2 linked regions of the Homo sapiens genome follow. The protein of the gene in region 1 purifies or fractionates together with the protein of each later gene. This does not show direct contact. Each region holds a gene or a part of one and is shown on either strand. Other genes may lie near its edges. The genes, in order: DHRS7B and ZDHHC11.

The links.
Region 2: the proteins of DHRS7B (region 1) and ZDHHC11 purify together in Homo sapiens (co-immunoprecipitation; one large-scale study listed by IntAct). This does not show direct contact.

Annotation. Positions count from the first base shown.
Region 1 is NC_000017.11:21,171,964-21,175,770, reverse strand, and holds part of DHRS7B (dehydrogenase/reductase SDR family member 7B), read right to left. Parts: intron 3,754-3,807; coding exon 3,575-3,753; intron 1-3,574.
Region 2 is NC_000005.10:844,484-848,290, forward strand, and holds part of ZDHHC11 (palmitoyltransferase ZDHHC11), read right to left. Parts: intron 3,298-3,807; coding exon of another isoform or gene 3,133-3,297; coding exon 3,031-3,132; intron 1-3,030. UniProt on the Homo sapiens protein: Endoplasmic reticulum-localized palmitoyltransferase that could catalyze the addition of palmitate onto various protein substrates and be involved in a variety of cellular processes.

The sequences.
Region 1 (3,807 bases):
AGATGAGGTTTCGCCATGTTGCCCAGGCTGCTCTAGAACTCCTGAACTCAAGCGATCCTCCTGCCTGGGCCTCCAAAAGTGCTGGGATTACAGGCATGAGCCACTGCACCTGGCCACATGCTGGTTTAAAGAGGCACTCCTGTCCTCACCTGAGGCATAGTCTCCCTTAAGTGCTCACCAGCAGATCTGCACAGGATACCTTGGCCCCTGGCTGACCCTGACCTGACACCAGTGAGCCACTGACTTGGTTCCAGACCGAATCTTAGAGGCCCAGGTGATTAGGTGGCACCCTAGCTCCTGGTTCATGAAAGGGAATGGCCTTTGCAGGCTAATTCCATCTCTGGTAGCCATGTGGTGATGGGCCAATACTGCAGGGTCAGAGGATCAGGGCTGCCATCTCCTCAGCTGGGAAGGAAAGGTCAGAGGGGCAGGCGGTGTGTACTGGTCTGAACAGGCCTGCCCTTAGAGAAGTGTCAAACTTCCTTAAAGCTAGATGGGTTCAAAACATGGGAGGAGAAGAAACTCCTTCAGCACCAGGGGTCCTGAGAGGTCTGAGGGAAGGCTCCCTGACGTCTGTCTCATGGTGTGAAGCCTCCGTGTGCTCCACAGCTTCTTGTTCAGCTCCCCACACAGCATTTGCTCATCCCCCAGGCGCCTCTCCATACACCCGACAGTCTTCGGGAAAGAGGTGCTAAGTAGACTCAATCTAGACACACTATCTTCTTTGAAGGAGGTGAGGTTGGTGTGTTCGTTGGCTCATCCCAACAAAGGGCAAAAGCCCGGAGAGAGCACCCACCCTGGGTAGTGAGGCCTGGTCCCAGCGCCCCAACCCTGCCTCCCTGGTGCGCTTCTCAGCAGAGCAGCAGAGCCCCCACAGGAATGAGGGGGGTGATGGCTGCACTCCAAGCCAGATGCCAGCATTCCTGAGGCTAGAACTGCTCATCCGGTTTATAAATCATTCCCAAAGGCTAGGAACCTTGGGCCCTGCTGGCTTCCTCACCCCATTTTGTCTTGTCCTGACCAATACATAGGACATTTGTGAGGTGCCACCAAAGGGTGCAGACACAGAACCCTTCAAAGGTGGGAGTCCCGCTGGAGTCTAAACAGCTTTGGGGAGATGACTGCCTCAAACCTGTTTGAGTTTTGCTTCCTAGCAAAGCTAAAAAGAGAGGAAATGAAAGTTTGTGTAGGGAGTGACAGAAATGAAAACAACAGATTGGAAGGATTCCATTTTCATTTATTGAAAAGCTGATATTGGAAGGTAGGAGGGTCCAAGGAAAACAACTCCAAGGTACGATATATGAAGGGCTGCAGATGACTGTCCAGTGCCGCTGGCACGCCTGGCTGGAAATCAACAGAGCTGTGCACAGCCCTGTGGCTAAAGCTGGAGGAAGGAGATATCCAGAACGTTCTGTTCCTTTAGTCAGTGGTCCCACACTATTCTACAAGGACAAGCTCAAGAGGCTTAAGTACACAAAACAAGAGACAAGATAGGAGAAACACGGAAAACTGAAGACTCGTTGCATAACTCCAAACCTTCCGGGTGGCTGACACGGCAGGCAGAGCCACTGAGGACAACATAGCTCTGCCTCCTCACAGAAGCAAGGCAACATCAGAACGTCCTTGGTGGCATCAACAGTGGCTGTACTTGACATGGCCAGTTAAGAACCTGCCCTACTTTATCTGGATGGAGGGACTCTTGTTCCCAAAAAGTTAAATGGGGCAGAATATAAGCAGTGACTGGAATCCAGGAAGGGCCTGACATCTTATGATACATAGACAGGTCTGGTGACCTCCGTGACATTTTCTGTTCCCTTCATAGTCTTGGTGTCAGGAGAGGAGATGCAGAATGAAGATGACAGCATGCTTCTCAAACATGCATGGATGGGAGCACTTGCGACTCAGAGCTCCACCTCTGCCAGCCCTCAAATGCTCTTCAAGGACTTTCACAAAATGCTTCTCTTTGAGCTCAAGAGAAGTGGCTGCTGACCACCCTATATATAGTAACTGAGTAAGGTCAGAGGACTGACGATGGCAAAGGGCCTGCAGACAGCTGTCCCTGCAAAGGTCTGGATATCCAATGACAGATATGGTGTTCACCCCTGGAGACCTCACCTAACATCCACAGTGGTGCACAAATGAATCCATACTCCCTAAAGCTTTCCCAGGCCACCCCTGGCCAACTGCAAGCCACTTCCACCACAAAGACCCACCTGCCTCTCTGTGTTCATGCAACACCCAACTGTATAAGTCCCTACAGGACCGTGCTTCTCCCCTACCTCTGGGCCTGTCTGGAATGTTCTGTCTACTAGCCCACCTATTCCTTCTACCTGGCCATCTCCCCTGCTGAAGCTTTGAGACTGTGAGTTCTAGAGACAGAGATGTGGGTTTGACTCTAGGTTTTGTACCTTCTGGCTGGAAGTCCTAGTCATTCCTTCTCTGAATCTTAGCTGTGAGAAGTCAGTGAGATCATGCATGTAAAAGTGCTTAGCACAAGTCAGCACATATACATGTGCCTTGTTGCCACCAGGCTGGTTTGAGAGCATATGTTACTGCAATGGCAATATATTGAGATAAGTCCTTGCCTTTCTCCTTACAACAGACGACCGTGACCTCCTTGAAGGAAGGGACCCTGTCTTTCATCTGTTTGTTCTAGAACCTGACCCAGAGCCTCCCACTTTAGCAGGTGCTCCATCAGCTCCAGCTGAGCTATCACCAACCAGAAGATGTAGCAGCGGGTGGGGTCACCACAATTCAGGGAACTCCTCAGCTTTCTTCCATGGAACTCAGAGTAAGCGTGGATGGCAGATGGTATGGTGTGTGCATGTGCAACGTGCCAAGTCAATATACGTGTGTGGCAGGAAAACAATGGAGCCCTGTAACTCAGAGGCTTCCAGAAATGGGAGAAGGGGGAACCCAGGTTTTGACACTCCAGGCCAGGGTCCCGGTACACCATTCCTGAGACTTAGAAGCTCATGGTGTTCACTGGGTTGGAATGGACCTAGATTGGAGACCCTGGAACAGCTGAGGCACCATTTATCTGTCTTTGACCTTGTCTAGACCATGCTGAGGGGACAGCTGGGGGCCTGGCCTGGGATGGCAAGGCCCAGAGAAAGCATGCACCAAAGCTGTGAACCAGAGGCCCCGGCTGAATCTAGGAAAGGACATGTTTCATTTGGTCCTCATAGAGGTAAAAACACGTTTTAAGTTAGCTGTCCATATTTGGAAATTGGGATATTTCACATAAAATTCCTACCTCAGCAAGCAACTGAGGCTGAGCAGGGCTGCCCTGTGAGGGGCAGGTATCCCATCCCACCCCACCCCACCCCACCCCCGGGGCCAGGCTGCTTCTCTCACACTTGCCTCCCACCCTGACGCTGAGTCATTTCTCACTGTGCCTTGGCTCCTGCTTTTTCCACTTGTACCAAGGACAGTGCCATCCGGCCCACTTCCCTTATCTGGCCTTCTGCTGCCGCTTCGGGCATTTGCGCTGGTGGTCCCTGTGCAGCTGGGCCGCTCCTCATCCCTGGCTGACTTACCCCCGCCCCCTGGCAGCACTGCCTCCAGGACCCACCTTTGCCCAGCCCTGAGGTGGCGCCTGTGATCACCACCACAGCATTCCGCAGGTAGGCCTTCCCGCGCACCCACTGCAGCAGCCGGAAGAGGCCGAAGACGCCCAGGCAGCCGAACAGCAGGGGCAGGATGGCTGTGGAGGTGATGAAGTCCATGGCCTTCACCTTCGGCAGACTCTTCCTGGAAGAACCAAAACCAAACACACCAGTGACAAAGTAGCAGAGTTCAGGGGAC
Region 2 (3,807 bases), on another chromosome or scaffold:
CCACCTGATGCAGACAGGCCTCCCTACCAGCCAAGGAGCACGCGGGCTCGGTCCACTCGGGGGGCCCTGAGCATGGTCTGTGCTGGGGTCTCCATGGCACCATGCTGGGCAAAGGCACTGAAGCCAGGGAAGGGGAGAGCCACGAGAGTGCCGTGGCACCCAGGAGGGCCTGCAGGCTCAGGGACCTGGATCTCTGCACCCAAAGGGAACTCGGGCTGAGGAGGCCCTGGAGGAGCCCGGCCACACCTCGGCTGCAGTCCCCCCTTCTCCAAGGGTCTCGTGCAAATCTGAGCCAAAAGCGATGTCCATGCTGTAGACGTGAGACCAAATCCACTCCCAGTCTCTCGTCTTTGCTCAAAAGATGCAGAGAATAATCCATCCACAAAAACCAATTCTGGGCAGCAGTTCCTGGAACATACTTTGACTAAACCATCTTCCCTTGGTCTTTCTGCCATGATGATATTTTTTTAAAAGTATCCTTTAACCTCCTTTAATCCTTTCCATTGTATTATGTTCACCTAAGCTTGTTTAAATCCCTTTTTCTATTTTCAACTGGAGGCCAGAGCATGAATGCCGCAGTCCTCCGAAGAGGCAGTTAGGGCACAGCTGCCTTCCCCGCGCTCCTCCTCCCTCCAAGAGTCTTCTGGATAATCCAGGGGTGACGGGTGGCTCCAGGCATGAGCGGCTCCCTGACTGCTGCTCCCTCATACTGCCTTCCCTCTCACAGCTTAGGTTTCCCAAGCAGCAGCCCCTCCAGGCAGCGGACACGCCCTACCCTGCCCCCAGTCCTCCTGGGCTTGAGCCCACTTGTGGGGAGTAAAGACCCCTCATCTTCATCCTACTGTCTGGACAGGACTCCCCTCTTCATCCAGGAAAGAAGGCGGGTCTCTAAGACCACAGAGACAAAAGCCCACAGGATGGGGCAGAGCCATTCACGCGGGGCCTCCTCTCCCCGCAGCCACCCAGGGACATTCTCCTCTTGGTTAGCACAGCCTCCTGCCCCTGCTGCCTGTGTTTAACCTGCAGAGTCCGAGGCCAGCGCTCACAGTCTTCCCAGGACACCAGCGCCGCCTGCCTTCTTTCCGTCCCCCTTCCTCTCTTATCACTACGAAGTATGCAGCCTCCCTCACAGGGGCTCTGCCATCAGCTGGGCCTCCCCATGGGGGCTCCGCCATCAGCTCGGCCTCCCTCGCGGGGGCTCTGCCATCAGCTCCTCAACTTTCCTCATCTTGCTCTCAATGCCGTTGCTCTCTCCGCCTCTGGCGGATGAAGGGACAGAAGCGAGGTTGGCACAGATGCCGGCGTTGGCTGCTGCCTGGAGCTGAGGGCGCCCATGACCCCGGCCCTGCTCTCCTGATGCCCCTTTCCCACACCCAGGCGGTGTCTACACTTGGCACCCACGTGGTCCCTCTCCAGCACCCCTCCTGAGGAAGGCAGACCCTCTCCTTGCCACCTGCCTGTGGGCCCTCACCCCCTCACCTTCCCCACCAGGACCCGCCAGATTGAGCCAGCTCGAGGCACCAGAGCAGAATGAGTCCAGAAGGAAGTGGCACCTGGGGCTAGCATGAGCCAGAGGAGCTGGCCCCACCTTGGCCATCGTGGAGCTGCTCTTCTCCAGGGGAGGAGGCCGGTGGGTCTCCCCGGCCCCTACCATCTCACGCAGCCTCTGGACTCGCTGTGCGGTCATGCAACCTCTCTGTCCCTGCCGGGCTGCTCAGCCTCTCTGGACACATGCTGTGCTCCAGACGGGATGGCAGGGAGGCAGGGCAGGGACCGCCCGGTGCGTCCTGTGACACCAGGCAACGTTGGTCCCCACTCCCACGCACACCAAGGCCTCTTTCAGGTCAGCACAGAGTAGCTGGGGAGCAGGCGTGGTTCTTTTCCCTGGTGATCTTCACAATACAGTGCTGCAGACAGCCGGGGCTCAGCACACGGGGCCTTGAGAGTCCCTGGATCCTCCACTGTGCTCAGGGGAAACACCTCTCATCTATGAGCCTCCACCGTGCTCAGGGGAAACAACCTCTCGTTCTTGAGCCTCCACCGTGCTCAGGGGAAACACGTCTCATCTGTGAGTCTCCACCGTGCTCAGGGGAAACACCTCTCGTTCTTGCACCTCCACCATCCTCAGTGGAAACACCTCTCATCCTTGCGCCTCCACCGTGCTCAGGGGAAATACCTCTCGCCTGTGAGCCTCCACCATGCTCAGGGGAAACACCTCTCGTCCTTGAGCCTCCACCATGCTCAGGGGAAACACCTCTCGTTCTTGAGCCTCCACCGTGCTCAGGGGAAACACCTCTCGTCTATGAGCCTCCACCGTGCTCAGGGGAAACACGTCTCATCTGTGAGCCTCCACCGTGCTCAGGGGAAACACCTCTCGTTCTTGCACCTCCACCATCCTCAGTGGAAACACCTCTCATCCTTGCGCCTCCACCGTGCTCAGGGGAAAGACCTCTCGCCTGTGAGCCTCCACCATGCTCAGTGGAAACACCTCTCATCTGTAAGCCTCCACCGTGCTCAGGGAAACATCTCTCTTCCTTGCATCTCCACCGTGCTCAGGGGAAACACCTCTCGTCTATGAGCCTCCACCGTGCTCAGGGAAACACCTCTCATCTGTGAGCCTCGACCATGCTCAGGGGAAACACCTCTCGCCCATCTGCGCTGGGTGCCCACTGCCCTTCCGTGGCCCCACCCTTGTGCTGGATGAGCCTCAGCCTGGGTGGAGAGAAGGCAGCCCAGCCCAGGACAGCGTGGTCAGGAGGCCTCAGCCAGCGTGGCCCCGCAAGTGCCCCCGGGGGGCCTCCAGGGACTTACTCTATGCGGATGAGCTTGTCCAGGGACGGCTGCACCACAGCCCCAGAGCCAGACAGGAGGCCGGGGCACGCAGGCACCAAGCGCCACCACATCAGGACAGGGACGCGGCCCCAAGAGGACCCTCCACCCTTTCAACACGATGACCCCTGCCCACAGACCCCTCCCTTCCAAATTCCCCCAAGCCTGGCCCGTGCCGGCCATCCCCTCTGTGCCCCTCACCAATAATTCCGGCTTCCCACGCAGTTGTTGATCCATTTGCAGTGGTGGTCGAAGCCGGACACACACTTATTGCAGGAAATGCAGTGTTTGGTTTTCTTGTTCCTGGAGGGATGAATCGGGGAACGCCTGTCAGGCCCCAAGTGCGCAGGTTGGGGCAGGGCCAGAGGTCCATCACTGGAAGCCAGGTGCCTCGGAGGAACCAGCCCTGTGCGGCCTGGGGAGAGGGCGTCCAGCAGGGAATGGGAGGCTGGGGGAGGGTGTTGAGGCCTGTGGGGAGGAGGAGAAGCAGGGCAGCTGTGGGCAGAGGTAGCCACAGAGCAGGAGGAGCTGTGTCTTTGGCCGCCCTGAGCATAGACCCCCCGCCAGCCGTCCTACACCAGCCTCACTCTGGGCCATGGCCCTGGAGGAGGCCGCGCCTGCCCCATGGTTCCAGGAGTTGAGGCCGGGGGCTTGGATCCCACCTGTGCCTACAGGGCCTCCCTTGCAGCTGACAACAGCCCTGTAGCCAACCCCTAGGCCATCACAGAGGCCTCCAGGGCCCCTGGAGACACTGGAACCCTTACCTCCCACTTTCCTAGGGGCTTGTCTTGAAACTCCCCAAGAAAGACAGTGCTCTCTTGCCCTGGGCCCTCAGGGGAGGGACCTCGTGCACAAAATCCACTGAGGACCAAACATGCCTGAGTGCTGCTGTGTTTCATTCCAGGGGAGCAGCGGGTCACCTGCAGGTGACAGACCCAGCCCTCCAGTCTCAGCCCTGCCTGCGGAGGAGTTGGGGCG